Homo sapiens: one gene and its partners. The protein of the gene in region 1 purifies or fractionates together with the protein of each later gene. This does not show direct contact. Each region holds a gene or a part of one and is shown in the gene's direction. Other genes may lie near its edges. The genes, in order: C19orf38, NLRX1, TTYH3, SLC39A3, ORC5, PDS5B and SLC7A2.

Region 1 (4,269 bases):
AACACACACACTTATTGAGCACTTACTATGTGCTAAGATCTGAGAGGGTCCTTTCGTAACCAAGACAGATGTGCTGTCTGTCCACAAGCCCATTCTCCAATGGGAAACAGCCCGTGATGGCACCAGACTGTGTCTGGGACAAGGCAGGTGGTCCCCTGAGGAAGTGATGTTTTTCTTTTTTTTTTTGAGATGGAGTCTCATTGTGTCGCCCAGGTTGGAGTGCAGTGGCACGATCTCAGCTTACTGCAACCTCTGCCTCCCGGGTTCAAGTGATTCTCCTGCCCCAGCCTCCCGAGTAGCTGGGATTACAGGCACGTGCCACCATGCCCGGCTAATTTTTGTATTTTTAGTAGAGGTAGGGTTTCACCATGTTGGCCTGGCTGGTCTCGAACTCATGACCTCAGGTGATCCACCCACCTCAGCCTCCCAAAGTGCTGAGATTACAGGCAATTACAGGCGTGAGCCACCGCCCTTTTGTTGTTGTTGTTTTTTGTTTGTTTTTGTTTTGAGGCGGAGTCTCACTCTGTCGCCCAGGCTGGAGTGCGGTGACGCGATCTGGGCTCACTGCAAGCTCTGCCTCCTGGGTTCAAGCCATTCTCCTGCCTCAGCCTCCTGAGTAGCTGGGACTACAGGCGCCCGCCACCACACCCGGCTAATTTTTTGTATTTTTTTAGTAGAGATGGGATTTCACCATGTTAGCCAGGATGGTCTCGATCTCCTGACCTCGTGATCTGCCCGCCTCAGCCTCCTAAAGTGCTGGGATTACAGGCATGAGCCACCGCGCCCAGCCTGTTTTTTTTTTTTTTTTTTTTTGAGACAGAGTCTTGCTCTGTCACCCAGACAGGAACGCAGTGGCGCAATCATAGCTCACTGCAGCCTCGACCTCCTAGGCTGAAGTGATCCTCCCCTCTCAGCCTCCTGAGTAGCTGGGACCACAGGCATACACCACCACACTCAGCTACTTTTTAAATTTTTTTTTCTAGAGACAAAAAATTATGTTGCCCAGGCTGGTCTTGAACTCCTGGGCTCAAGTGATCCTCCCTCCTTGGCCTTCCAAAGCGTTGGGATTACAGCCGTGAGCCACCTCACCTGGCTAGAAGTGATGTTTAAGCAGAGACCTACAAGAATGGGTAATGGAGGCCGGGTGTGGTGGCTCACACCTGTAATCCCAGCATTTTGGGAGGCCGAGGCAGGCAGATCTCTTGGGGCAAGGAGTTCAAGACCAACCTGGCCAACATGGTGAATCCCTATCTCTACTAAGAATATGAAAATTAGCTAGGTGTAGTGGTGCATGCCTGTAATCCCAGCTATTAGGAGGCTGAGGCAGGACAATCACTTGAACCCAGGAGGCGGAAGTTGCATTGAGCCGAGATCCTGTCATTGCACTCCAGCCTGGGCAACAGAGTGAGACTCCTTCTCAAAAACAAGAAAAAAAAAATGGGTGATGGAGCAATTGGAGGAGAGCCTGGGGAGGAGGAGGAGCTGGCAGGTGCTCCTTCTGGAAGGCCTGAGATAAGACACCCATTTTCCTGAGGGCAGTGAGAGATACCCCTAGGAAGACTGTGTGTAGAAGGACTTGGTTCACTTTGTAGCTGTGAACAGTTCACCGTGCAGAATGGGTTGGAAAGGCGCCATAGAGGATGCTGGGAGATGGACCCCAATTGCTTCCCTGTGGGCTGGGGGGCAGTGCGGGGATGGCAGGGAGCAGGGAAGTTACAACTGGCCCCCAATCCTGGGTTTTCTTTCTCTTTCTGTTTCAGACATGTCCTTCGATAACTCCCTGTTTACCGTCTCCGCGGTGAGTGGTTCTTTTTCTTGGAACCGGTTTTCTGCTGACCGTCCTACCGGGAGAACGGGGCGGGCTCAAGGGGCACCACGAGGCTAAGTTGACCTGCTGTCTCTAAGCTGCGGGGGGGCTAGGAAAAGCCCAGAATCACTGAACAGGGACTCAGTAGTGAGCCGAGAGTTGGCTGTGAAAAAATCCCAGGGGGTGTGTTAATTGAAGGTGGTGACGTCAGGCTGTCTTGTGGCCACAGGCAGGCAGGCCCCTTGGTGGTATGTCCTGGCCTGGTCAGTGCTGCCTTTGGTCTCAGTCATGACAGCCCCTCAGAATGGTGACAGAGGATTCAGGGTGACCTGGTGGCCTCTCATAGAGGCTTGTGACAATCTGTGTCACAATCTGTGACAGGCTGTGGTCGGTCCCCTCTGGGTATAAAGAAAAGCATGAAGTTGCTGGGTGCGGTGACTCACGTCTGTAATCCCAGCACTTTGGAAGGCCGAGGCGGGTGTGGGTCAGGAGTTTGAGACCAGCCTGACCAATATGGTGAAACCTCATCTCTGCTAAATACAAAAAATTAGCTGGGCGTGGTGGTGCATGCTTGTAATCTCAGCTACTTGGGAGGCTGAGACAGGAGAATCACTTGGACCCAGGAGGTGGAGGTAGCAGTGAGCCAAGATTGAGGCATTGCACTCCAGCCTGGGCCACAAGAGCAAAACTCCATCTAAAACAAACAAACAGATAAAAATGAAAAAGTACAAATGCCAAGGCTACCCCAAAATGTAGCTGTGCAGAGAGTCCCATAGACCCAGGTTTAAATCCCAGCCCTGACACTGTGTGACAATGGGGAACAATATCCCCCAAAAGCAGAGGGAGGGATTTGTTTTTTTTCAAGACAGAGTCTAGCTCTGTCGCCCAGGCTGGAGCACAGTGGTGTGATCTCGGCTCACACAACTTCCGACTCCCGGGTTCAAGCAATTCTCATGCCTCAGCCTCCCGGGCAGCTGGGATTACAGGCACATGCTACCACACCCAGCTGATTTTTGTATTTTTAGTAGAGACGGGGGTTTCACCATGCTGGCCAGGCTGGTCTCAAACTCCTGACCTCAGGTGATCCACTGGGATTACAGGTGTGAGCCACCATGCTGGCTGGCTGCGGAAGCTGCTTTAGACAGGAGATCAGGAAAGTCTGAGATGGGTGACAAGCAGGAGGTGGGGAAGATTGGGGATGATTGATCCAGGCTGAGGACACATTTTTGGCACAGCCCAGTAAGCTGGGGTGGAGTGAGGAGTCGAAGGGGACCCCATGAAGAACTTTGATTTTACTGCTATTGAGCTGGGATCCCGGAAGGGTTCCTAGTATAGGAGGGAGGGGACCGGATTCAGGTGCACACAGGCGCCCTCTGGTGGCTTCTGCAGGAGGACAGATTTGGGGAAAGCGGGGATCAGTGGAAGGCAGGAGCCTGGAGACTGAAGAGCTGGGCCAAGCGTGCACCAAAGGGTGGGTGGTTTGGTCCAAAATGTTGGCAGTGGAGTTCGAAGAAGTGATCAGATGCAGGTTAGGGGAGATATAGGGGAGAGAAAACACAGAGCTGATTTTTGATGAGGGGGCCAAGGGAGAAGAGGGAGGCCAAGGAGGGTGAGGCTTGGAGGGTCAGGAGTGTGGAGTCAGCCACCTCAACCCATGGCGCCTGGGAGCAGATGGAGAGGGGAGTCTACAGTTCAGGAGAGAGGTCAGTTCTAGAGATAGACTAGGAGTGCCTGGGATACAGATGGTAGGAAGGAAGGGGGCTTGGCACGGGCCTGTGCAGCCCTCTGAGGTCTCTGCTTCCAGAATAAATCCTGAGGCCATAAGAAAAACCCGGCAGGCAGGGCTCAATCTAAACGTTTCCATGAGAATCCACACCGCACAGAACACCAGCCTGGTGATGCCCCCTCTCCCCACTTTTTGAGGTAGTTTTTATTTATTTTTGTTTGTTTTTTGAGATGGAGTCTTGCTCTGTCACCCAGGCTGGAGTGCAGTGGCTTGATCTCACTGCAACCTCCACCTCCTGGATTCAAGCGATTCTCCTGCCTCAGCTTCCCGAGTAGCTGGGATTACAGGCGCCTGCCATCGCGCCCGGCTAATTTTTGTATTTTTAGTAGAGACGGGTTTTCATCATGTTGGCCAGGCTGGTCTCCAACAACCGACCTCAGGTGATCCGCCCGCCTTGGCCTCCCAAAGTGCTGGGATTACAGGCATGAGCCACCATGCCCGGCCTTTTATTTGTTTTTTTACTTTTTTTTTCTTAAATTAAGGACCAGGCGTGGTGGCTCATGCCTGTAATCCCATCACTTTAAGAGGCCGAGGTGGGAAGATTGCTTGAGCCTGGGAGGTTGAGTCTGCAGTGAGCTATGATTGCATCACTGCACTCCAGCCTGGGTGACAGAGCAAGACTTTGTCTCAAACAAACAAAAAATTTCCGTATGAAAAGCATTCACATGTCAAAATA
Region 2 (4,269 bases), on another chromosome or scaffold:
GCTCCGTGGTTCTCTAGCTGTTGACCTTGAGCATGTCGCTTCACCTTCCTCAGCTGCCTTTTTCCCAACCTAAAATAAGGGAGTTGGACTTGGCCAGGTGCGGTGGCTCATGCCTGTAATCCTAGCACTTTGGAAGGCCGAGGCAGGCGGATCACAAGATCAGGAGTTTGAGACCAGCCTGGCAACATGGTGAAACCCTGTCTCTATTAAAACTACAAAAAAAAAAATTAACCAGGTGTAGTGGTGCACACCTGTAATCCCAGCTAGTTGGGAGGCTGAGGCAGGAGAATCATTTGAACCGGGAGGCAGAAGTTGCAGTGAGCTGAGATCGCACCATTGCACTCCAGCCTGGACAATAGAGTAAGACTCTGTCTCAAAAAAAAAAAAAGAGAGTTGGACTAGATCATCTTCGAGAGTCTCTTGTAGCTACATAAGTCTAGGAACTTGTCTGATTTTACTTTACATACAACAGAGATTTACTGAGTGCCTGCCGTACCGCAGACCTGGTGTTAAGTTCTAAGTAAATAATTGTGAACAAAAACAGACGTAAAGGGGACAAAAAAATTTTAAAACACCCAAATGTGATCCCTCTCATGGAGGAGAGAGGAATGAATGTTAATCGAATAATCACACAATGAAATATAAAATTGCAAAATAACTGCTGCAAAGGGGCAGTACATGCTGCTATGAGAGCAAATACTGGGGGGTTTGATGTAGACATGGGTTCTGTGTATTGCATGGGATCTGCAGATGCTATTTCTTCCTTCTCTCTGTAGATGATCGTATCCCCTTCCTGATCCACTGGAGTTGGCCCCTTCAAGGGGAGCGTCCCTTTGGGCCCCCTAGGTGAGGCCTGGGTGTCATACCTTAGGACTAGTCTGGGCACAACAGAGCAGACTGGGAAGGGTCAGGACTTGGGGCTAGCTTGATCTCTTGGGGACCTTGGGGAGGGGCTTGGTCCTTTGGGGGTGGGAGGACAGTGGCAGCTCCAAGGCCTGAGAGGAAGTTGGCTTAGATCATCTGTGGTAGAAGGCATAGTAGTCAGTGGAGGGAGGACCCTGTGGGAAGTGGGTGGAGCCTCACATGGCCAGCCTGAGTTCCAGGCGGGCAGTCAGCAGTGGGGTCTGGAGGGCTAGGGCTAAGGCCTCAGCACCTGGGAAGGGTGTGAGAGTCAGACAAGCCTCTAAACTTGGGGGTCCAGTGTGGGGCCTTTATCTCAGGAAACCAGAAGTCTAGCAGTGCAGATAGGCTTGGACCCAGAGCCTGTGAAGGGGCTGATCCAAGTTACAAGTCCCAGCTCATCCCCTCTCCTTGTTCCCAGGGCCTTTATACGCCACCACGGAAGCTCGGTAGATAGCGCTCCCCCACCCGGGAGGCATGGACGGCTGTTCCCCAGCGCCTCTGCAACTGGTAAAGGGACTGGCTGGGACCCTGGTCAGGGGGTGTGGTGGGCAGACGGGGCTGGAAGGAGAAGCAGGGTGAGGGAGGCATAGAGGATCCACTGCCATCTTCCATCGGTGGTCCCTCCTCCTCTCTCTCTCTCCCTCCCATCCGTCTATGTATCCCTTCCTGCAATACTCTTGCAATGCACACTTATATGTACAAAGCGCTAGGAGAGCCATACCATCCCTATGCTCAACAAAGTTGGGTCAAGCAGGTTAAGACGGCACATAGGTCACTGTGAAACCAGTTTGTCCAGTGGCTTCCCACTTTCTGACATAGGGGTTCCAGACTTTCTGGACAGTCTATATTTTCTCAGGGAGTCTTGTGTGCCCACCATTGTGGGCCCCAGCATCTATGCCGTGATGTCCCAGCCTGACCTCACCACCGCCCTGATTGGCCCTAAGCTACATCTCCAGGCCCCTTTCCCTGACACATTTCCCTTATCTTCCCACTCAGAAGCTATACAGCGGCACCGCCGGAACCTGGCTGAGTGGTTCAGCCGGCTGCCCAGGGAGGAGCGCCAGTTTGGCCCAACCTTTGCCCTAGACACGGTCCACGTTGACCCTGTGATCCGCGAGAGTACCCCTGATGAGCTACTTCGCCCACCCGCGGAGCTGGCCCTGGAGCATCAGCCACCCCAGGCCGGGCTCCCCCCACTGGCCTTGTCTCAGCTCTTTAACCCGGATGCCTGTGGGCGCCGGGTGCAGACAGTGGTGCTGTATGGGACAGTGGGCACAGGCAAGAGCACGCTGGTGCGCAAGATGGTTCTGGACTGGTGTTATGGGCGGCTGCCGGCCTTCGAGCTGCTCATCCCCTTCTCCTGTGAGGACCTGTCATCCCTGGGCCCTGCCCCAGCCTCCCTGTGCCAACTTGTGGCCCAGCGCTACACGCCCCTGAAGGAGGTTCTGCCCCTGATGGCTGCTGCTGGGTCCCACCTCCTCTTTGTGCTCCATGGCTTAGAGCATCTCAACCTCGACTTCCGGCTGGCAGGCACGGGACTTTGTAGTGACCCGGAGGAACCGCAGGAACCAGCTGCTATCATCGTCAACCTGCTGCGCAAATACATGCTGCCTCAGGTGGGTGGCCCTTTACCCCAGGTTATCACTGCTGCCCGTTGACTCGCCCCCTAGGTCCTGGGTTACTTTAACTCCTGGTCCCTTCACTTCCCAGTGGTGCGACCCTGAGCAAGTCAGTAACTTCCCCAGCCTTCTGTTCCTTTCTTTTTGAGTTGCTCTGATCAAATGGGGTACTGCATATAATATTAGCACAGCGGCCTGGATCACAGCAGGTGTTCAGTAATTGCTAGTTATAACTGTTATCCTCATCAATGTCTTCATCCTTGGACACTCCGTCTTCAGGGGTCCCCTGGGAATAGAAGCAGTCAACAGGACACTAAGGTCTTTCTTAACTCTCAACCATGCTCTTCCCAGGCCAGCATTCTGGTGACCACTCGGCCCTCTGCCATTGGCCGTATCCCCAGCAAGTACGTGGGCCGCTATGGTGAGATCTGCGGTTTCTCTGATACCAACCTGCAGAAGCTCTACTTCCAGCTCCGCCTCAACCAGCCGTACTGCGGGTATGCCGTTGGCGGTTCAGGTGTCTCTGCCACACCAGCTCAGCGTGACCACCTGGTGCAGATGCTCTCCCGGAACCTGGAGGGGCACCACCAGATAGCCGCTGCCTGCTTCCTGCCGTCCTATTGCTGGCTCGTTTGTGCCACCTTGCACTTCCTGCATGCCCCCACGCCTGCTGGGCAGACCCTTACAAGCATCTATACCAGCTTCCTGCGCCTCAACTTCAGCGGGGAAACCCTGGACAGCACTGACCCCTCCAATTTGTCCCTGATGGCCTATGCAGCCCGAACCATGGGCAAGTTGGCCTATGAGGGGGTGTCCTCCCGCAAGACCTACTTCTCTGAAGAGGATGTCTGTGGCTGCCTGGAGGCTGGCATCAGGACGGAGGAGGAGTTTCAGCTGCTGCACATCTTCCGTCGGGATGCCCTGAGGTTTTTCCTGGCCCCATGTGTGGAGCCAGGGCGTGCAGGCACCTTCGTGTTCACCGTGCCCGCCATGCAGGAATACCTGGCTGCCCTCTACATTGTGCTGGGTTTGCGCAAGACGACCCTGCAAAAGGTGGGCAAGGAAGTGGCTGAGCTCGTGGGCCGTGTTGGGGAGGACGTCAGCCTGGTACTGGGCATCATGGCCAAGCTGCTGCCTCTGCGGGCTCTGCCTCTGCTCTTCAACCTGATCAAGGTAACATCCCGATCAAGGTAACCCCCCAACCTGCTCCTTCCCTCCCCAGCACCCCAAGCCGCCCACGCCCCCACATGGTTCCCTGTTCACCCCTTGCTCCTCTCCCAGCAGGAAACTGCTGCTTCCTGCAAAGGTATGAATCTTCTCCCTGGATCTGGTTTCAGCTCTGAGCATTTTGGCTTTTAGTGGGATTGCAGAGAGAGAAGCCACAAGGCTGGGGAAGGCTTGGTGGCTGGGGAAGGGAACCTGGGGACGTGGGGACTTTAATAATAATGCTACATGGATTCCTAAAAATGGTTTCCTTTTTGTGTCTTTCCTCCTAGGAGGCAGGCCTATCCTCTGCTTTGCAGGTCCAGAAACTCGATTGTGTCTGCTCCTCCAGAGGTGATTAGGCTCTGAGAGTGATGACTCATCCTAACTAAATCACCAGAGACGGGTTTATAAAGCAGATGCCATTTTATTCATTTATACTAGGAAGATAAATGGCATTGGTAATTGGCTTAGGGGAGTCATCATGAGGGCAGGTCCACTCCAGAAACCAAATTACAGACCTGAGGACTGTGCTGTGAGTGGC
Region 3 (4,269 bases), on another chromosome or scaffold:
GCGCGTTGGGTGCCGGGGCTCTGACGTGGGATGAAGCAGCTGCCCGGTTTGCTGAGCACCCTGACACCCAGGCTCTGCATGCTCGCAGTGGTGGGCTGGGACCCGGGCAGCCCAAGTGGGCTCCCTTTGAGGGAGGCGCCATCTCCTTCCTCAGTTGGGGGAAGCCAAGTGAGGCTGTCCTGGCAGGGGCCCCGAAGCCTGGCCTCTGGCCCCCAGGGGCTGAGGAGCGAGGCTCCGTTTGCAGCTGGCCCCATCCAGGCAAGAACAAGAGAAAGCTGCCTCAGCCAATCGCGGTGCTCACACCTGTAATCCAGCACTTTGGGAGGCCGAGGCAGGTGGATTGCTTGAGCCCAGAAGTTCAAGACCAGCCTGGGCAACATAGCCAGACCCTGTCTTTACAAAAAATTTTTTTAAAAATTAGGGCAGAGGCCAAGCACAGTGACTCATGCCTGTAATCCCAGCACTTTGGGGGACCGAGATGGCAGATCACCTAAGGTCAGGAGTTCAAGACCAGGCTGGCCAACGTGGTGAACTCCCCGTCTCTACTAAAAATACAAAAATTAGCCAAGTGTGTTGGTGCATGCCTCTAGTCCCAGCTACTCAGGAGGCTAAGGTAGGAGAATCACTTGAACCTGAGAGGTGGAGGTTGCAGTGAGCCGAGATCATGCCACTGCACTCCAGCCTCAGTGACAGAGACTCTGTCTCAAAAAAAAAAAAAAAAAAAAAAGAAAGAAAGAAAAAGAAAATTAGCCAGGCGTGGTGATATGTGCCTGTGGTCCAAGCTACTTGAGAGGCTGAGGCAGGAGGATCACTTAAGCCCAGGAGGTTGAGGCTTCAGTGAGTGGTGATCGTGCCACTGCACTCCAGCCTGGGCCACAGAGCAAGACCCTGTCTCTAAAATAATTTTTTTCTTTTCTTTTTTTTTTTTTTTTTTAAATCGTAGACTTGGGCTGGGTGTGGTGGCTCACGTCTGTAATCCCAGCACTTTGGGAAGCTAAGGCGGGCAGATCACCTGAGGTCAGGAGTTTGAGACCAGCCTGGCCAACATGGTGAAAACCCATCTCTACTGAAAATACAAAATTAGCCAGGCATTGGTGGCGGGTACCTGTAATCCCAGCTACTTGGGAGGCTGAGGCAGGAGAATGGCTTGAACCTGGGAGGCGGAGGTTTCAGTGAGTCGAGATCACACCACTGCACTCCAGCTTGGGCATCACCAGTGAAATTACATCTCAAAAAGAAAAGGCTGGGCACGGTGGTTCACGCCTGTAATCCCAGCACTTTGGGAGGCCGAGGCGGGCAGATCATGAGGTCAGGAAATCGAGAGCATCCTGGCTAACACAGTGAAACCCTGTCTCTATTAAAAATACAAAAAATTAGCCAGGCTTGGTGGCGGGTGCCTGTAGTCCCAGCTACTTGGGAGGCTGAGGCAGGAGAATGGCGTGAACCCGGGAGGCGGAGCTTGCAGTGAGCTGAGATGGCGCCACTGCACTCCAGCCTGGGCGACAGAGCGAGACTCTGTCTCAAAAAAAAAAAAAAAAAAATCGTAGAGTCCCCGGTACTCCAGCTCCTGTGCTGCCTTTTCTGTTTTTCTCAGCGTCTCTCACCATCCAGCAGGCTTCACAGTTCACTTACGATGATGCTGAGTGCCTGTGTTCCCTCACCACCCTGCAGGCGGCGCCAAGGGCAAGGGTGCCTGGTGCTTAGCAGCCTCTCCCCACCGGGCATGGGCGTCCCCTGCCCACTGCCCCTGGGCATCAGCCCTCTGCACCAGGGCAGTGCCATCTGAGGGACGGGCTTGCCTCGCCCAGATCCTGTTTGGCCAGGGCTTATCTCGCTCTGCCTCCGTTTTCTCATCTGGCAAGTGGGAGTGGGTGGCTCTGGCGCCGCTGAGGAAGTGATCTGGACCTGGAAGCCCTTTGATGTACGCTGATGCCCCGAGCTCTGGGTGGACATGCCAGGCCGGTGGCTGCGGAGGTCACACCTGTTTAGGCTCTGCGTAATGCGTGTCTGGGATTGACCTGCTCTTCCAGTCCCCAGCTCCTCACCCCAGGAGGAGTTTCCCTGCGAGGCTGTGAGTCCCAGATGTGGGGTGCAGTACAGACAGGCCCTCCTAGAGTCATGTCCCACCGGAGCACAGGGTCGGGGGAGCGAGGGTGACTCCAGCCAGGGACTGGGGAGGCCTCTGCAAGTGGAGAGCAGAGGGAGGGCTCGCTGGAGGAGTCTGACCAGCCCGGGGCCAAGATGCGGCTGGTTGACATGGCCCCCAGGCCATGGGAGCCCAGGGGAGGCCCTGTGGATGGAAGTGCAGACGTGGGCATGGGTCCTGTGGAGCTCTGGTCCCGGGGGGCATGGTCAGCTGCCCCTACAGGTCTGTTCTGCCGTTGGCCTCTGAGCTATAAGGAGGGTACTGGCAGGGCCTGCAGTCACAGCCGGTGGGGTCAGCACCTCCACTCCATTCCCAGCCCCACACAGGCAAGGGCAGACCCAGGGAGCCCCAGAGCGTGGCTTTTCCAAGCTCCCTAACGTTTATAGACAACCCACTGAGCACAGAGCATGGGTACCGTGCTGGGACTGTTAATATGAGGCCCTGCCAAGTGACTGGACTGTCTCCGCCTCCCTGTGTGATCTTGGGTAAGCCCTACTGGGCCCTGAGGACCCCTCTGTGACATGAGCTCCCTGGGACCATGAGACCGCCCTGAGCTGATTCAGTTTCAGTGGCTCTGGTGCCAGCCCTGGGTCCTGCCCCTGGAGGGTGGGGGTGCAGGGCCCAGCAGTCCTCCTGCCATTGCAGGGGCGGTAGGCACTTGTGCATGGCTGAAGGAGTGGGAGGGTGCCCGCCCCTGATGCTCTGCAGTGCCCAGATTGCTGGCTGCTGGGCAGCCGTGGACACACCGGTGTGGCTTTGGACCATGGCGGCTCATTTCTGGGTGTGCCGGGCTGGTCAGCACCTCCCTGGCTGGGTGGAGGTGGAAAGGCCGCCTTCGGGTGTGGACGTCGGCCGGCTTCCTGGAGGGCAGGACACGGCATCCTCCCACTGCCTGGCAACCGTCTCCTGGGAGATCCAGCAGCAATCCCATTGCCCACTGTGGCTGAGCCTCTCATCCCAAGGGGGGGCCAGGCAGGGGACCATCTGCCCCAGCAGCTCCCAAGGCTGGGGTCCCAAGAGGGCCACACTGCTGAAGCATTGAGATGTGGGGAGAGAGGCGTTTCTCTGCAGTAGTGCCAATGAGGGCAGCGCAGGTGTGCCTGGTGGCCACCCCACAACACTGAGGGCCCCAGCTGCTGACACCCCCCAGGGCACCCCCAAGTTAGCCTCTAGGTGGTCCCTGGCCCCATGATGAGGCGCAGCCCTGTATCAGCTCCCCATCCCTCCCCCGGCACAGGAAGTGTGTGGAGGTTCTGGAGGGCTGAGCCGGGGGCAGGGCTATGCTGAATCCAGGGACCTGGGGTTGCAGGGCCTGTGTGCTTTCTCTGTAGCTTCTATGAAGCCCAGTTTCCCTGTGGATGAAATGGGGTGAGAGCACTCGGCCAGGCAGATCGAATGCAGTGCCAGGAGAAGGGACAGCTCTGGGGCCACGTTACCCTCCCTCCCCGCAGCGGGTGCTGAGGAAATGTCACTGTTGCATCAAATTAGCCACTTCCTGTGGGGGTCGCCTGGCCTCGGGACAGGGGAGCTCTGGTGTCTGTTCTGTGGTCTGTCTTTTGTGTTCAGAGACCTGGGGAGAGCCACACTGGAAGGCCGTGCTTGGAGCCAGACAGGGCTGTGTGTCCGATGGGGCGCCTGTATGCAGCCTGTAGCAGTGTGGGGCCAGCCCCACCATCTCATCCAGCGTGGGGGCACGCCATGGACGGTGCCCACCCCTGAGTGCAGCTTCTCGGTGCACAGACCCCAGACAGGATCAGACTCCTGATGGGGCCTCTTCCATGTTCACCCCTCAGAAACACTTTCATGGTCAGCAAGAGGGGGTTCAGTCCCCCACAGGCTCCCAATTTCCCTACCAGACCTGAAAACCTCAGGACTACAGCTGGGGTGGGGGATCCTGCCAGGACTCAGGTAGGAGAGTTCTGGGCCTGAGACGGGGACGGGCTCTGGGGTCCTGGGGCTGTCTCGGGCTGGGGGTGAGGACAGTAGCTGATGCCGGCAGCCCCCTCCCCAGGGCTTCGCTTCTTCGGGGGAGCAGCAGCACTTTTTTTTTTTTTAGACAGTGTCTCGCTCTTGTCGCCCAGGCTGGAGTGCAGTGGTGCAATCTCGGCTCACTGCAACCTCCG
Region 4 (3,266 bases), 8.1 Mb from region 1:
ACAGATGGTTTGGCCCTGCAGTGACCAGAGCAGCCCAAGCCGCCACCATGGTGAAATTGCTAGTGGCCAAAATCCTGTGCATGGTGGGCGTGTTCTTCTTCATGCTGCTCGGCTCCCTGCTCCCCGTGAAGATCATCGAGACAGATTTTGAGAAGGCCCATCGCTCGAAAAAGATCCTCTCTCTCTGCAACACCTTTGGAGGAGGGGTGTTTCTGGCCACGTGCTTCAACGCTCTGCTGCCCGCTGTGAGGGAAAAGGTAAGGGCTCCCTGGGCACTAGCAGCAGCCCTTGGCACCTTATGGCCAAGGGACTCTGATGCATTTTCAACACTGATGCCAAGTTCAGTGAAGGCCTTGATGCTGTAAGGGTGACGGAAAGTAGGAAGTGAATTTGCTGTGTGATTGTGAACTGGTTACTTTCTGTCTCTGTGCTCTACCGGCCAAACAAGGGGTTTGGACCAGACCTGGGATTCCCAACAGGTGGACTTGTCGGTTGTCACCTGATAATCAGACCAGACTACCCACCTAGGTAGGGCACACTCTGTCCTGAAGCTGGAAAGCATGGCCTCTCTTCGGTTCCTATATCAGTCAGCTACTGTTGCGTAACAAATTATAGCAAACTGAGCACCTTAGGACTACAGACGTTTATCATCTCACAGTTTCTGTGAGTCAGGGGTCTGGGCACTGCTTCAGGAGCTCACAAGGCAGCAGTCACAGTGTCTCCTGGGCTGTGGTCTCATCTCAACGTTCAACCGGGGATGGGTCGGCCTCTAAGCTCATGTGGTTGTAAGCCAGGTTCAGTTCCTCATTGGTTGTCAGACCGAAGGTGTCTGTTTGTCAGTGTCTGTTGGCTGGGGCAGCCCTCAGAGCCTGGCCACGTGGACCTCCCCAGCATGATCAGTTCCTTCATCAGCAAATGGAGAAGATGGCCATGACTCTGTGTAAGACAGAGGGCACAGTCCCATGTCATGCAGAGGTGACAGGGTATCCCTTCCCCTCTGCCCCAGTGTCCTGCTGGTTAGAAGCAAGTTCAAGTCCTTCCCATACTCAAGTGGCCAGGACCTCACAGGGTATGGCTGTCAAGAGGCAGGGGCTTCTGGGGCCATCTTGGAGTCTGTCCACCCCAACTCCTGACAGCATCATCCTCTGCTGACCTGTTCCTTGAGCTCCCCCATATCAGCAGCCCAGAGTGTGGGTCCCCTGTCAGGCCACAGTGTGACCAGCCCTGGCCATGCTTGCTGGGTGACCCTGGGTGAGTGGCTTCCTCTCTCTGGGCCAGTGCCAGATGTGACATTGAATTTGTGTTGGTTACATACTTGGTGGAGATATGAGGACCCCCTGTTCTTCCTCCCAACGAAAGCATGGAAGCCCTAAGCTTATCCCCCAACCCCTGGCCCTGCTTTTCCTCGTGCCTAGTGTCCAGAAAGGAGGAGAAGGGCTGTTGTCTGGGATTAAATCATCTGAGCCTGTTAGTGTGGCAGAGTAGAGTTCCAGGGTGGCTCCCTGAGCTTCCAGCCCCTGCTCCGCACGCCCCATGCTCTTCCCTCCCCTCGAGTGTGGGTAGGGCTGGGACTGCCGTGCGTGTCACTCCTGCCATTATGTCAGAATCCCAGCAGAGGGGATGTTGCAGCTGTGATGACCGCCCCAGATCGGTTAGCGCTGAGTTCATCAAAAGGGAGGGGGTGGGCCTGGCCTAATCAGGTGAGCCACTCACCCTCCTGCTGGCCTTGGAGAAGCAAAAAGCCAGGGTGTGCCAGGAGAAGGGCATGAAGCGAGGACCCGAGGGCAGCCTCTCGGTGCCAAGAGCCATCCCCGCCAACAGCCAGCCAGGACACGGGGCCTCAGTCCACAGCCACCAGGAGGTGGACTCTTCCGACCTCCAGTGAGCTTGGAAGAGGACCCTGGGTGTCAGTGAGATCTCAGCCCTGATGACACCCTGCGAGACCTGGAGCGTAGGGCCCAGCTAGCCCGCACCTGGATTTCCACCGTTCAGAGCCGAGACACCGCATTCCTGCTGTTCCGCGTGGCTGAGTCTGCATTCGTTCGTTACGCGGTGTGTGAAGACTGACATCTGCACTGCGAGGATGGAGATCTTGGTCATCTCTGACATCTCCTGCATCGCAGAGGCCACTGCCAGCCCCCCTTTTCCCCCATGGTCATGGTGTCACCCCCGTCACCCTCTGACTGCAGGCCTGGGCGACTGCGGGGAGCTTGCTCTTCCCTCCCCCTCATCACAGTGGCCTTCTCATGGCACCCAAACCTTTCCCGCCGTTCTCCTGTCCTCGGGCTGGTCAGGCGGATGAGGTCCCTACTCCCGAGCCCCCAGCCTCACCCACTGCAGGGCCAGGCTCTCAGTCACCCCTGGAAAATGGTGCCTGGTTCACAGCTCCCGTGCATCTGCCTCATCTCTCCTGATCAACGTCTGTCTCTTGGGAGTAGCTAGAGTTCCTCATGAGCTTGTCCTCAAGCGAGGCATGCATGAGGCCTCCAGCCGGTGGTCAGTGAGGGAGTTAAGTGGCTTCTCCGTGGAAACACAGCCTTCTGCTGCAGCAGAGGCTCACCCAGCGTGAACTGCCCCCAGGGAACACTGGGCGATGCCTGGGGACATTGTGGTTGTCACGATGGGGGGTGCTCCTGGCCTGGAGTGGGTGGAGGCCAGAGACACTGCTCAGCAGCACCCTGCAGTGCCCAGGACGGCCCCGTCCCAGAGAACAATCCAGCCCCGAATGTCAGCACCTTCCCCCTACCCGAGTTGTGAAAATAAAAAATGTTTCCAGACATTGCCAGGTGTCCACACGGGCAGAATCGCCCTGGTTGAGAACCACTGTGTGCGCGTGCTTGTGTGTGCACCTGCGTGTGCGCGTGTGTGTGCGTGCGTGTGTGCACATATGCGTGTGTGTGTGTGTGTGTGCACGTGCGCAGGTTGTAATGAAGTCTCCGCTGGGAAGGAAGCAGGGAAGCAGGCATTGTTGAGTGTCGATTGTGTTGTGATTTTCCTCCACTTTGGTCTCGAGGTCTCTCTGGAGGGTGGCTGTGAACTCTGGCCCTGCCGTGACGAGGCTCCAGGGAGCTGTTGTGGGCGTTTACAGCCTGCCTTTCATGAGACATTTCATCCTGGCGCATAGCCTAATGCCTGCGTGTCCGCCCCGTGAGCAGCTGTCCCTCCCATAGGAGTGTGTACCTCTTGCAGACGCCCTGCGGCTCCCGTCTGACCCACGTCTAGTTTCTCCCCACCAAAGTCTCCCCTCGCTAGGAGAGCCCTGACCA
Region 5 (4,269 bases), on another chromosome or scaffold:
TGCTATTAGAATGTAAAAGTACATGGACTCTACAGGGAAGTTTTGGCTTTTTTTTTTTTTTTCAGCAGTTTTGAAATAAAAAAGCAAATTCAGTAACAGTGTCTCATCTAGTATCCATTCAGGCTAATATTCTAAGTATAAAACTAGGCTTTGAAATTTTTTTTGTCAACTTCTGTGTTTAAATATTCCTTAATAGAGCTATTTCTAAACTTCTGTTTATAAATTTTCAGATAGTTCATATATATTTTTTGATCTTGTACCTGCATCTAATTGATTGGCAGGCACAAGAGTGGTTAAAATCAAGGGCCAATGGTAAATGGCCTGGCTAAAAATACTAACTTACTGGGAACCTTAAACAAAAGGAAATTGACATGATTAGAATATCCTGGAAGAGTTTTTCCTTGTAATTTTTGCAAAAAACTTGAGCCCTCTGGAACTAGGTTTAAAGTTGTAGTCATATGCAAAGAGCTCTTAACTAAGAAGTCTAAGGAGAGCATTGCACCAAGAAGTCAGAGGATCTTACAATAAGGAATGAATGACTAATTGATTCCTGTATTATGACTGGGAAATTTTGAATAATATATGGTTGTTTCCCTTTAAATTTTACTGTGTTTCTAAAATATGATTATTTCCAGCAGGATAAAGTATAAGGTTAGGACTCTTAATGTGGTATTTTATAAAGAGTCTGAGATATAATAGAAGTAGAGTAAAGATATCAAAGTTGTAGGGAGAAAATACGTTTTATACAAGGGGGAATAACAAAGTAAGGACTAGGATCAGGTGATGATTATTGTAAAAAAAGATTAATTCTTTTCATTTTATAAAACATGAAGAGCATTTTCTAGTTTGTTGGCAGTTTATGTACTATCCCCTTTTTCTTCCTAGTTGATTTACTTAATAGGAAGAAAAATAAACTAGAATCTACAGTATTTTTTCCCTTGTTACTGATTTTGCCGGTAATAAGGTTGTTGAGATTTTCTTTAGATGTCATTGTTTTCTATTTGTCTTAGTATTTAATAATTTTTTTTTTACCCTCAGTTTCAAAATTGTGATTTACTTTTTCAGAAGTATTTTTACTCAAAACACTTCTGACACCAAATGTGTGGGGTATTTTTGTTCACCCAACAACAAATTCTTCAGTTTTCTAGATATCAAATGGGTGTCCTAAAATTCAATTCACTTCTGACACTAACTACCAGAAGTTAGTGCAGACCTCACAAGTTAAGGGCTTAGTCCTACAAGAATATTAGCATTTCAGACACCATTCTAAGTCCCAGGTTTCTACCTGTACTCCAGAAAACTGGCTATAAATTGGGGTTTCACATGAGCCCCTCCTCAGGTTTGATAATTTGCTAGAATAGCTCACAGAACTCAAGGAAACACTGTACTTACTCCATTTATCATAAAGGATACAAATGAACAGCCAGATGAACAGGTACACAGGACAAGGACCAGTGGGGTCCCAAGCTCAGGAGCTTCTGTCCCTGTGGGGCTGGAGTGTGCTACCCTCTCAGCATGTGGATATATTTACTATCCTGGAAACTCTCAGAACCTCATCATTTAGGATTTTTTTATGGAGGTGCCATTATATAGTCATGATTTGATTAAATCATTGGTCATTGGTCATGGATTCAGTCTTTAGCCCTTCTCCTTTTCCCAAGGACAGGAGGTGGGGCCTTGATATGGTTTGGCTTTGTGTCCCCACTGAGATCTCATCTTGAATTATAATCCCGTAATCCCCACATGTCATGGAGGGACCTGTTGGAAGGTAATTGAATCATGGGTGCGATTCCCCCATGCTGTTCTCAAGATACTGAGTTCTCACGAAAGCTGTTGGTTTTATAAGTATCCGGCATTTTCCCTGCTGGCACTCATTCTCTCTCCTACTGCCCTGTTGAGTGCTTTCCACCATGATTGTAAGTTTCCTGAGGCCTCCCCAGCCATGCAGAACTGTGAGTCAATTAAACCTCTTTTCTTTGTAAATTACCCAGTCATGGGTATTTCTTCATAGCAGTGTATGTGACAATACAGGGCTCTAATCACTTGGTTGGTTCCTCTGACAACCAGTCCCCATCCTGAAGCTATCTAGGGGCCCGCTGTATTAGTCCATTCTCACACTGCTATAAACATACCTGAGACTGGGTAATTTATAAATTTATAAAGAAAAGGTTTAATAGACTCACAGTCTGTGGGCTGTACAGGCTTCTGCTTCTGGGGAGGCCTCAGGAAACTTGGAATCATGGTGGAAGGTGAAGGGGAAGCAAACACATCTTCACATGGCCAGCAGGAGAGAGAGCATGAAGGGGGAAGTGCTGCACACTTTGAAACAACCAGATCTCATGAGAACTCTATCACAAGAACAGCTAGGGGGAAGTCTGCCTCATGATTCAATCACCTCCCACGAGGCCCCTCCTCCACTGAAAATTTCAAATGAGATATGGGTGGGGACACAGAGCCAAACCATATCACCCATCAAGAAACACCTCATTAGTATAAATTGAGGTATGTTTTAAAAGGACTTATTATGAGTAACAAAAGATACTCCTCTTATCCTTCTCATTCAGGGAATTATGAGGGTTTTTAGAAGCTCTGTGCCAGGAACTGCAGTGAAGATCAAATATATATTTTTTATTATATCACAAATCACACTTTTGTATTCTAATCTTGTAATAGTTTTATTATTCCTTAATTGTTGCTGGGTCTGGGTGTTTTTTTTTTAATACCTTTGTTATAAAATGCTTGAAGATATGATTAGTGTACTATGTTAATCATTATAAGTTATTTTGTGTCCTGTGAACAGGCAACCTTCAAAAGATCCTGTCCCATGATCATCCTCCAGAGTATTCAGCTGATTTCTATGCTGCCTACATTAACATTCTTCTTGGAGTTTTCTACACTGTTTGTCGAGATTTGAAAGAGCTCAGACATCTGGTAAATGAACATTTTGCTTGAATATATATATATGTGTGTGTGTGTGTGTGTGTGTATACATATATGTGTATATATGTATTTTAATGTTTTCCATGTAGAAATGGTATGAGATAGGTTAGAAACTGAAATTTTATTCTGGGAATTTGCATATGGCCTCTAGAGACTAACATACCATAAGAAGGTAGATGTCTGTGGGTTAGTACAAACTTTGATTGTTTGATCTGATCAGAAAAATGTCATTCTCAGATCTTCTTACTCTTCCTTGTTTTTTCTCTAATTGCAGAAAATGCAGAACTCCATAAAAATCAAAATGAGGAATAACAGAAAAGAGATGTAAAAACTTGAGCAGTTTTACAACTCTGTTAATATTTTGTAACAGATTTTGTTCAAGTTTTATGTATGCGGTGATTGAGGTCTAGAATCTAGATGGATTTGAGTATGGTCAGAAGCTTTCATTGCAGGTCTTTCATTAACCACTGACCCTGAGCTGGTAATCTTTGTATAGATGGTTCTTTTTAATTTTTTTTTTTTAACAATTAGAATAGCTGTTTATATTTCATAGACAGTTTGGAAAATGTTGATGTTTAATTTTTCTTTGACCTTTTTTGTTTTAATTGTAGGGATGGGAAAGGAAAGAGACAAGAATTTCTGTTTTCCCTTTTAGAAATCTTCAATTAATTAAGATCTTATCTCCATTTAACAGAAAATAGTAATATATCTGAGGCTGGAAAACAGTCACTTTCAAAGTAACAGATTCTATGTCTCTTAGCACATTTTCTTCACTTTGTTCTTTTTCTGTTTTTGCCCTGAAAAGTATTACTTAGTTTCAGTGTGTGTTTGCGACAGAACACAGAAGGCAATCATTTAAAATTATGCTCACATTTAGTATGTTTTTGAAAGTTTCAGATTTCAGGGCTCCTCTGATTTACATGTAGATTTCAGACATCTTCTCAGCTGGGAAAAAACAAAACAGTTTTTCCAGTTCAAGCTTATCACTAACATTCCTCTAGAAGTTGGATGTCTTGGGATCCCTGGCTTCTGAGGGAAATGATAACACAAGAGACTTACAGAGAGGAGAGGGTCAGGAAAACGCACCTGAGTGAGATGGACTTAGGAGCAGATAATCCTCCTCGGTCTTTCCTGGAAAGTAACTTGCAGTTACCACTCTTTAGCACTCGAATCCTGTGGGAATCTGTGCTGACAGCCATTTCAAAGTAGATTATAAAGTACAAGAAGGAAAAATTTAGGGAAAATATTTATGGGAAAATAAAATGTAAAGAGAGAAATATATATTTAAATGTGGTATTTTTTAAAGTTCTTCGAGTTTCACTGTGGAAT
Region 6 (4,269 bases), on another chromosome or scaffold:
CTAATTTTTTGCATTTTTAGTAGAGACAGGGTTTCACCATGCTGGCCAGGCTGGTCTCGAACTCCTGGCCTCAGGTGATCTGCCCGCCTTGGCCTCTCAAAGTGCTGGAATTACAGGCGTGAGCCACTGCGCCCTGGCCTAAGTAGAAGCTCTTGAGCACTTTTTCCCCCTCTGTCTCTTTGGTACTATTCCTTTCAGCTTTCGACTCTCCTAGCCTTCTGGGGTAACATAAATAGGTCAAGTCTTTATAGCTGTAGTTGGAATTCGGAAGGTCACTGGCATTTAAGACTTGAACATAGGAGCATATATCACAATATATGCTCCTATGATATATCAGGATGTGATGCTTGATAAGTGGGGTCCCTTTCTAAGGAATGCAGAAGAGCATGGTGGTTAATTTAAGCATATAGACTTAAGAGTCAAGACAGCTTGGGTTTTTATCTCCTCTAGCTAAACAAGCAATTACCTAATCTTACTAAATCTCAACTTCTTAATCTGAACAGTGGGACTAACAGCAGAAACCTCATTTTTAAAAGCAGCTTTATTGAGATACAACTCACATACCATAATCCATTGAAAATACACAATTCATTATTTTTTAGGATACTCATAGGTTTGTGCAGCCATCATCACAGTCTGATTTTGGAACATTTTTGTCTTCTGTGAAAAACGCCAAACCAAATGTAAATGAGTAGAGCCATTACGGAGAATATTATGGGGGCTCCTCAAGAGGTGAGAAGGGATAGAGAGAGGTTGGCTAAAGGCTACAAAATTTAGCTAGATAGGAAGAATAAGTTCTAGTGTTGTACTGGGTGACTACAGCTGACCCTTGAACAGCGAAGGGGTTAGGGGCACCAACCCCTGTGCAGTTGAAACTCCACATATAACTTTTATTTCTCTGAACTTTGGTAGTAATAGCCTACTGTTGATTGAAAGCCTTACTGATAACATAAACAGTCAGTTAACACATGGAGTGCAGTGGCACGATCTCGGCTCACTGCAACCTCTGCCTCATGGGTTCAAGCGACTCTCATGTCTCAGCCTCTGGAGTAGCTGGGATTACAGGCACCTGCCACCACGCCCGGCTAATTTTTGTATTTTTGGTGGAGACGGGGTTTCGCCATGTTGGCCAGACTGGTCTTCAACTACTGACCTCAGGTGATCCGCCCGCCTTGGCCTCCCAAAGTGCTGGGATTACAGGTGTGAGCCACTACGCCTGGCCTCCATTCTGTATTCTTAAAGCAAGCTAGAGAGAAGACAATGTTATTAAGAAAATTATAAGGAAGGAAAATATATTTGCTATTCATTAAGTGGAAGTGGATCATCGTAAAGGTCGTCAGCCTTCTTGTCTTCCTGTTGAATAGGTTGAGGAGAAGGAGGAAAAGGAAGGATTAGTCTTGTTGTCTCGAGGGTGGCAAGGTGGAAGAGAGAGAGGAGGTGGAAGAGGAGGCAGGAGAGGGAGGCGCACTGTAACTTTTACTGAAAAAAATCCATGTATAAATGAACCTGCACAGTTCAAACCTGTGTTGTTGTTACATATTTTCAACTAGCTAGAAGAGAGGCTTTTGAATGTTCCCAACACAAATAAATGATAAATGTTTGAAGTGATGGATATGTTAATTACCCCGATTTGATCATTACACATTGTATATGTTGAAGTATCACCATGTAACCCACAAACATGTACAATTATATGCTGGTTAAAAAGCATAAAAATAAAACCCCCGAACCTACTAGCTGTCACTTCCCATCACCCCTTATTTCTTTAGTGTTTGGGATAAGCCAGGTCAAATGCTTAGGTTGGTGCCAAAATGTAAGTACACAGTAAAAAAGCAGTTATAACTTTTTGCAGGGAGACTGTGTGGCAAAGTCCATTTACATAGTTTTAGAGAATGCAAAAATGGGATAATTACTGAATGGATGTTTGCATACTTCCATACTGTGCAAGGATGTGGTGCACAGTGCTGGCTAGAGATACAAAGATGAAAGATACTCAATCAAGAGATGTATATTCAAGTGGGAGGAAAGAGGCTGGTATAAAAATACTTATAAAACAAGCCAGAGTATAGTTAGTGCCTTCAGGAAGGGCTCAATACAATATTTGGAATTGGAAACTTGACAAATGGAGATTAGTCATGTTACTCTGAGAGTACAGGAACTATGAAAAAATTCTTGAAGGAGCAACCATTTTGACCAAGTCTTAGATGATGGAAAGATGGGATTTCTGGCTTTAATGAAGAGTAAAGAATGCAATGCTTTTTGAAGTCTTAAACTATTTGTTTTTGTTTTTGTACCCTCATGCTGCTGCCAGATGATTGCCTCTGGAAGCTATTCCTACACCTTTTTTTGATGTTTCTAATCTGTTATGAACCTGGGGGACTAAATTAGTAAATAATCTTTTAGTGAGAGCCTGATGTCTGTATGAAAAGGATACCAATATATGGTCTTACGCTGTCGTTTTGATATAGTTGCTTTTTTAGTTTATTCTGTGGGTCTTGGTTTCATCCCTGTTAATTGGTCTTACAGAATAAGTAATTCCTAGATAAATTAGCCTCATATACGTGTCTTCTTCTCCAAGGCTTCTAGTAACAACTATGTCCCCTGACCATTCTCCTGAATTTCCCATCTTCTTTTTCTAGTGCACTGTTGGACACAACACCTCCAGTACAATATATCCCAAACTGATCTACCTTCTCTTACTCTTTAACATCTTTCCAACTTGTACCTTGATTAATAACAGATTTCTTTCTTAAAAAAAAAAATGTTGTAGGGGATGACATGACTAGGTTTATCATCATGCTAGAAACCTGGGAGTCATCTTGACTTCTCCATCTCCCCTAACTCTCACATTACATAAGTTACCAAATCCTGTTGATTCTGATATAGTATTTTTAAAGGTTATTATTATTTTAAATTATATGCACATATATACTCCAAAAGTAAGACGGCAAAAAGGAAAAAGATACACAATAAAAAACCTCTCATTCCTTCCCCATTTGCCTCATTCCTAGACTCCCACAAAAGTTTATATATGTTAATGTTATGTTATATCCTTCTGGGGGTTTCAAAACACAACTATGTAGAAGGAACCACATACTTAAACAAATAGTAACACATAGCATGGGATTTCCACAATAGAGGTATACACAGAGTCTGTGAGAAGGAGAAAGAACCACCATGCATTCCCTAAAAGAAGAGTTAGGTATTGGAAAAACCTTCCTATTGGGTCCTGAATAGAAGATGAAAAGGAGAACTTTGGACACGTGAATAAACCAAACTGAGCTGTTAATAAGCAGAGAACTATCAATTAGACACAGAGACAAAGGGTCTAACAATAGGATGCTAGAACATTTCATTGTTTGGGGGGTTCAAAGGACCTATAAGGAAATAAAAGAAAATGCTGGCAGCCACACACAGTGGCTTACATCTGTAATTCCAGCACTTTAGGAGGCCGAGGTGGGCTTCTTGAGGCCATGGACTTGCAGTTACTTTGGGATCTAGCAAAGATTTCAGCGCATTGTAGATGATGAATATTTATTGAATATGTGTAATAATGTATATATACTAAACATATATGTGACAACCCAAGACAAGGAAAATTAATACAATATTAAGCTCACAGATTTATTTAGAAATATAAAATTTTATTTTTATTGAGGTGTAATTAAAATACAGTAAAATGTGCAGATCTTAGCTGTTCACTTTGATGAGGTGTGATGATTATACACATGTAACCAATAACCACAAGAAGATGTAGAGCATTTTTATTACCCCACAACGTTTCCTTGTTGCTCTCTCCATTCAATTTCTTTTGCCTCCAAACACTCTTTGATTTTTAAATGTAGATTAGTTTTGTTCTATCTTCATACAGTGTGTGCTCTTGTGTATCTGGCTTCTTTTGCTTAACATATTTTGAGATTCATCCATGGGGTTGGATGTATCAGTTTTTATTGCTAAGTAATATTTCATTGGGGGAATATTTCACAGTTTATCTTCTGTTGATGGACATTTGGGTAGAATCCAGTTTTTGACTATTATGAATAAGGCCTATACAGATCTTTTTGCAAGTGTGTGTTTTCATTTCTCTTGAGTAAATACCTAGGAATGGAATTGCTGGTTTGTAGGCATATGTGTGTTTAACTTTACAGGAAACTAGTTTTTCAAAGTGGTTTTCCTTTTTATATTCCCACCTGAATATATGAATGTTCTAGTTGTTTTACATCCTCACCAACACTTGGTTAGTCAATCTTTTTAATTTTAGCTATTCTA
Region 7 (4,269 bases), on another chromosome or scaffold:
CACCCAGGCTGGAGTGCAGTGGCGCGATCTCGGCTCGCTGCAAGCTCCGCCTCCCGGGTTCACGCCATTCTCCTGCCTCAGCCTCCCGAGTAGCTGGGACTACAGGCGCCCGCCACCACGCCCGGCTAATTTTTTGTATTTCTAGTAGAGACGGGGTTTCACCGCGTTAGCCAGGGTGGTCTCGATCTCCTGACCTCATGATCTGCCCGCCTCGGCCTCCCAAAGTGCTGGGATTACAGGTGTGAGCCACCGCGCCCGGCTGAAAACATCTTTATTGAAAAAAATTTTATGCTTCAGAAGGGTGGCTTTTTCTTTAGATCGCGAGTTTTTTCCTTCCTGAAATTCACTTTATATTCACTCCCGCGGTGTTCCTTATCTGTTCTAGCAAAGAGTACTTATTATTCATACGCGGCGCTCATAGTTCGCAGAATATTTGCAGCTTGCCAAGGTACTTGTCCTGACAAAAATTCAAATGGCAACTCTTCATGATAATTTGTATCAAAGAGTACTTATTATTCATACGCGGCGCTCATAGTTCGCAGAATATTTGCAACTTGCCAAGGTACTTGTCCTGACAAAAATTCAAATGGAAACTCTTCATGATAATTTGTATCAATGTGGGTATGAATTCCTGTGGGAAAAGCCTGAGCTCAAAGCTTTAGGCTACTCTGTATGGACTTTTTGTTTAATGATCATATGAAACAATACAATTTTATATTTATGTTTGAATTCACCAGCAAGTTTTAAGTGGTTTCTTTAATTCAGTTGTGATTTAAGCAATTGTTTGGGAGACGTCTTTGCTCTTGAGTTCTGGGGAAACCTAGAAGGAGCCTGGGGTGAGTTTTGACCCTCCATCCTTAAGTCCTCAGCAACACTCAGGTGTGTTTTGGCCACATGAGGAATTTACCTTTGTTCCACAGCAGCCTATGGCAAGAAAGTGAAGTCACATTGGCTGTGATTCCCCAAGCAAAGTGAGATTTCGATTTCAACTCAGAGGCCTGGCGTTTTGCATTGATCTGGACCTTTGTGAAGGCATTGGTAGAAGAATAACAAACTACTAAGAATTCAGTTTATTGATCATCCTGAAACAAAATGGCACTGCTGAGTGTTTAGTGAGCCTCAGTGAGGAGTAAGTATTGGGCACCAGCTGTGTGCCCTCTGAGAATGTGCCAAGTGCTTAGTGAGATTGAGGCCGGTGGTAAATGAGATCTTGTGGCTCTCCTGGACCACTGGTCAGTTTCTTATGGAGTTCAGTGTCTAGGGGATTGAAACCCTTACCTTTCAATTAGTTGCACTTTAAATTATTTCATACTTTAAAGTCTTGTATTGCAGTGATATTTTTAAATGTTTATGTAATTCTAATTGGCGGAGCCCATACTTGATAGAATTGCCAGTGGTTCTTATTATGGGATAAAATTGAGGTCATTTTGAGTGACCAAAGTAACAATTAATTCTATCCGGTTTATCAATTGTATTTCTATATGCATTCCTTAGAGAACCCATATATGTTCTCAGTTACTCTTCTACCACATCGTCTTCTCTTTGGCTTTCATCTTTATTACCAACTTTTATTAATACATTTGGAGAAGTTAAAGGTCATACTCTTTTTAGGTAGAATTGTATAATATTTACAACTTAAGCGCCATACTGTTTGAGCAGTCTCTGAAATTTTACTGCAACTCTTAAAAGATTGAGTAACTGACTCAAACAGGAGAACTAAAGAAATTCAGGTCCAGAAAAAGAAAAGATTGCGTGACTTTTACAGTTTTTTCTAATGAAAGGCATTTGCATGAATGGTTCCCATAGTTCCCTGATACACAGAGAAGGAGCTCCTCCTCCTTTACTCCGATCTGCTGGCCATTCTGTTTACATTCGTGCCTCTGTGGGAAAGAAGAACTCTAAGATCATAGCAGCTGTTCTGTGCAGCAGTGGCTCCCTTGATGTTTTAGGGGAGTTAAGGAAATTAAGTGATGGAAGCATGTACCACCCCCCACCCCCCCGCCGCCCACCCGATCCCATCCAGTTCACTTCCCTGTAAAAAAGAATGCACATCTGTATGTAAACTGTGCCTCTTCCCTCTGGCAATTTTGTGTAAGATTTCTGGAAGGTCAAGACTTCCCACATTCCAACCAGTGGGCAACTAGGGTTTCAGAAACCCAAGATAAGAACCTTGGAATGCAGAAACCATTTCAACTTCTCGAAGAAATATCTTAGGAGAGAATCCTGTGAGCAGGATGGGGCCTTCTTGGTCATGCATCCTTTCCTCTTGCTGAAGAAGACCGCTTATGGCCTCCAAGTTGGGGCTGAGAACTGGCCCAGAGGTAGATGTGGCAGTTGGGGTCACTCTGAGTCACAGAGGTATGACAGTAACATAGCAATGACCCTTCTCAACTAGTGCCATGGTGGATGCTGTTCCCTGGCCTCAAGGGTATACTTGACTTCAGTGATCTCCAGCCTCGCCATCTTTCTTTCCTCCAGATTCTTAGACTCGTAGATTTCAATGTCTTCCTATGGGCCAGAAACAAATTTACTTGAGTTTTGGCTGAGATAATTTAAACTGAGTATTTGTAAATGTCTGACATAAACAGAAAAAAAATGGGTAAGCATAGTCAGTGCCCTCTTTTCTTATCTAAAATTGGAGCATCTTTAGTGTGACATTTGAAATCTAATCTTGCCAGTTCAATGTCAGTCTGATACGGATATTCTTGTAGAAATCTCTGAGATTTAATAAACTTACAGTTGAGTAGAACTGAATCATACTAAAGACCAGTGGAAGCATCCTTGCAGGGCCTTATCAGTTTTTACAATGTAAAATAACTAACCCATAGCGTTTCCTTTTACAGTTAATGTTTGTTTAATAACATGCTTAAGGTATAATATTGAGACGAAGTGAGGAATTTTAATGCTGATTTAGCTACTGAAAAATTATCTCTTGCAACACTTGCTTTACTTGTAGTTAGGATTTGTAATGTTTTATTGCAAAAGAAAGCCCTCTTTTAAATGCGTTGCATTTGTGGCATAGTGGTTGTGTAGGTGGAGTAGGACTTGTGTCTGTACAATTCATCAAGAACATAGCACAGAGCACTTTTACATGCCATTCAGAGACAATAGTGGGTGTTGATAAAATTTGTAGTACTAGAGCTGTGAAAACAAGTGCTGGGCTGGTGCCTGCTTTAAACTCTCTTGAAACTTAGCAGAATTTCATTTTTATAACAAAAATCACTATTTTCTTTAAAGAGGATTGATAACATGAATAAGTCTAGGTGTCCTGGAAATTCATTTGGTTATATCACTATAAAAATGGTGAGACACTGTTGTGGTAGTTGGTTTTGTATTTTAAAGCGTAAACTTCACAGTACATTTAAAACTGTCCTGTGCGAAATTTCAGAGGCTTTGGACACGTTCCTTTCTAGCCTCCCTCGCCGTGGACAGTTATCAAGTTTCTGGCACGGTGCTAGACGAATATGGAAGAGAAGTAAGTGCCTCAGAATGACATTTTAGAACGCTCTTTTTATAGGTTAAGAGACTGAGATCTTGAGAGGTGTAACTCATCTGAGGTTAGACAGCTAGGGATACAGTGAAGACTGGAGTCCAAGCATATTGAAAAGTCAGACCATTCTGTTTTTGTGAAAACAAATAATAATTACTAGAATGCACTACTTCTGTGGAATTTTTTTTTTTGAGACAGACTCTTGCTTTGTTGCCTGTCTGGAGTGCAGTGGCGCAATCTCGGCTCATGTGAGGTTAGACAGCTAGGGGTAGAGTGAAGACTAGAGTCCAAGCATGTTGAAAAATCAGACCATTCTGTTTTTGTGAAAACAAATAATAATTACTAGAATGCACTACTTATTTGTGGAATTTTTTTTTTTTTTTTTGAGGCAGACTCTCACTCTGTTGCCAGGCTGGAGTGCAATGGTGCAATCTTGGCTCACTGCAACCTCCACCTCCCAGGTTCAAGCGATTCCCCTGCCTCAGCCTCCCAGGTAGCTGGGACCATAGGCGGGCACCACCATGCCTGGCTAATTTTTTTTGTATTTTAGTAGAGATGGGGTTTTACTATGTTGGCCAGGATGGTCTTGATCTGCTGACCTTGTGATCCACCCGCTTCGGCCCCACAAAGTGCTGCGATTACAGGCGTGAGCCACTGTGTCTGGCCTATGTGGAATTTTTAAATTGGGGATCAGTACAATTACAACTTAACATTTTTAGATTTTAATGGTTAACTATAATTTATTATATAATTTTAAAAAGCTGGAAACTATTTAAATG

The links.
Region 2: the proteins of C19orf38 (region 1) and NLRX1 purify together in Homo sapiens (affinity purification with mass spectrometry; one large-scale study listed by BioGRID and IntAct). This does not show direct contact.
Region 3: the proteins of C19orf38 (region 1) and TTYH3 purify together in Homo sapiens (affinity purification with mass spectrometry; one large-scale study listed by BioGRID and IntAct). This does not show direct contact.
Region 4: the proteins of C19orf38 (region 1) and SLC39A3 purify together in Homo sapiens (affinity purification with mass spectrometry; one large-scale study listed by BioGRID and IntAct). This does not show direct contact.
Region 5: the proteins of C19orf38 (region 1) and ORC5 purify together in Homo sapiens (affinity purification with mass spectrometry; one large-scale study listed by BioGRID and IntAct). This does not show direct contact.
Region 6: the proteins of C19orf38 (region 1) and PDS5B purify together in Homo sapiens (affinity purification with mass spectrometry; one large-scale study listed by BioGRID and IntAct). This does not show direct contact.
Region 7: the proteins of C19orf38 (region 1) and SLC7A2 purify together in Homo sapiens (affinity purification with mass spectrometry; one large-scale study listed by BioGRID and IntAct). This does not show direct contact.

The regions. Positions count from the first base shown.
Region 1 is NC_000019.10:10,861,410-10,865,678, forward strand, and holds part of C19orf38 (protein HIDE1 precursor), read left to right. Parts: intron 1-1,760; coding exon 1,761-1,798; intron 1,799-4,269.
Region 2 is NC_000011.10:119,171,580-119,175,848, forward strand, and holds part of NLRX1 (NLR family member X1 isoform 1 precursor), read left to right. Parts: intron 1-776; coding exon 777-846; intron 847-1,321; coding exon 1,322-1,410; intron 1,411-1,899; coding exon 1,900-2,519; intron 2,520-2,873; coding exon 2,874-3,695; intron 3,696-4,269.
Region 3 is NC_000007.14:2,641,833-2,646,101, forward strand, and holds part of TTYH3 (protein tweety homolog 3), read left to right. Parts: intron 1-4,269. UniProt on the Homo sapiens protein: Calcium-independent, swelling-dependent volume-regulated anion channel (VRAC-swell) which plays a pivotal role in the process of regulatory volume decrease (RVD) in the brain through the efflux of anions like chloride and organic osmolytes like glutamate.
Region 4 is NC_000019.10:2,734,039-2,737,304, reverse strand, and holds part of SLC39A3 (zinc transporter ZIP3), read left to right. Parts: 5' UTR 1-47; coding exon 48-257; coding exon of another isoform or gene 258-365; exon of another isoform or gene 366-2,779; intron 2,780-3,266. UniProt on the Homo sapiens protein: Transporter for the divalent cation Zn(2+). Mediates the influx of Zn(2+) into cells from extracellular space. Controls Zn(2+) accumulation into dentate gyrus granule cells in the hippocampus.
Region 5 is NC_000007.14:104,186,913-104,191,181, reverse strand, and holds part of ORC5 (origin recognition complex subunit 5), read left to right. Parts: intron 1-2,800; coding exon 2,801-2,931; intron 2,932-3,214; coding exon of another isoform or gene 3,215-3,268; exon of another isoform or gene 3,269-4,269. UniProt on the Homo sapiens protein: Component of the origin recognition complex (ORC) that binds origins of replication. DNA-binding is ATP-dependent. The specific DNA sequences that define origins of replication have not been identified yet.
Region 6 is NC_000013.11:32,592,419-32,596,687, forward strand, and holds part of PDS5B (sister chromatid cohesion protein PDS5 homolog B), read left to right. Parts: intron 1-4,269. UniProt on the Homo sapiens protein: Regulator of sister chromatid cohesion in mitosis which may stabilize cohesin complex association with chromatin. May couple sister chromatid cohesion during mitosis to DNA replication.
Region 7 is NC_000008.11:17,503,089-17,507,357, forward strand, and holds part of SLC7A2 (cationic amino acid transporter 2), read left to right. Parts: intron 1-4,269. UniProt on the Homo sapiens protein: Functions as a permease involved in the transport of the cationic amino acids (L-arginine, L-lysine, L-ornithine and L-homoarginine); the affinity for its substrates differs between isoforms created by alternative splicing.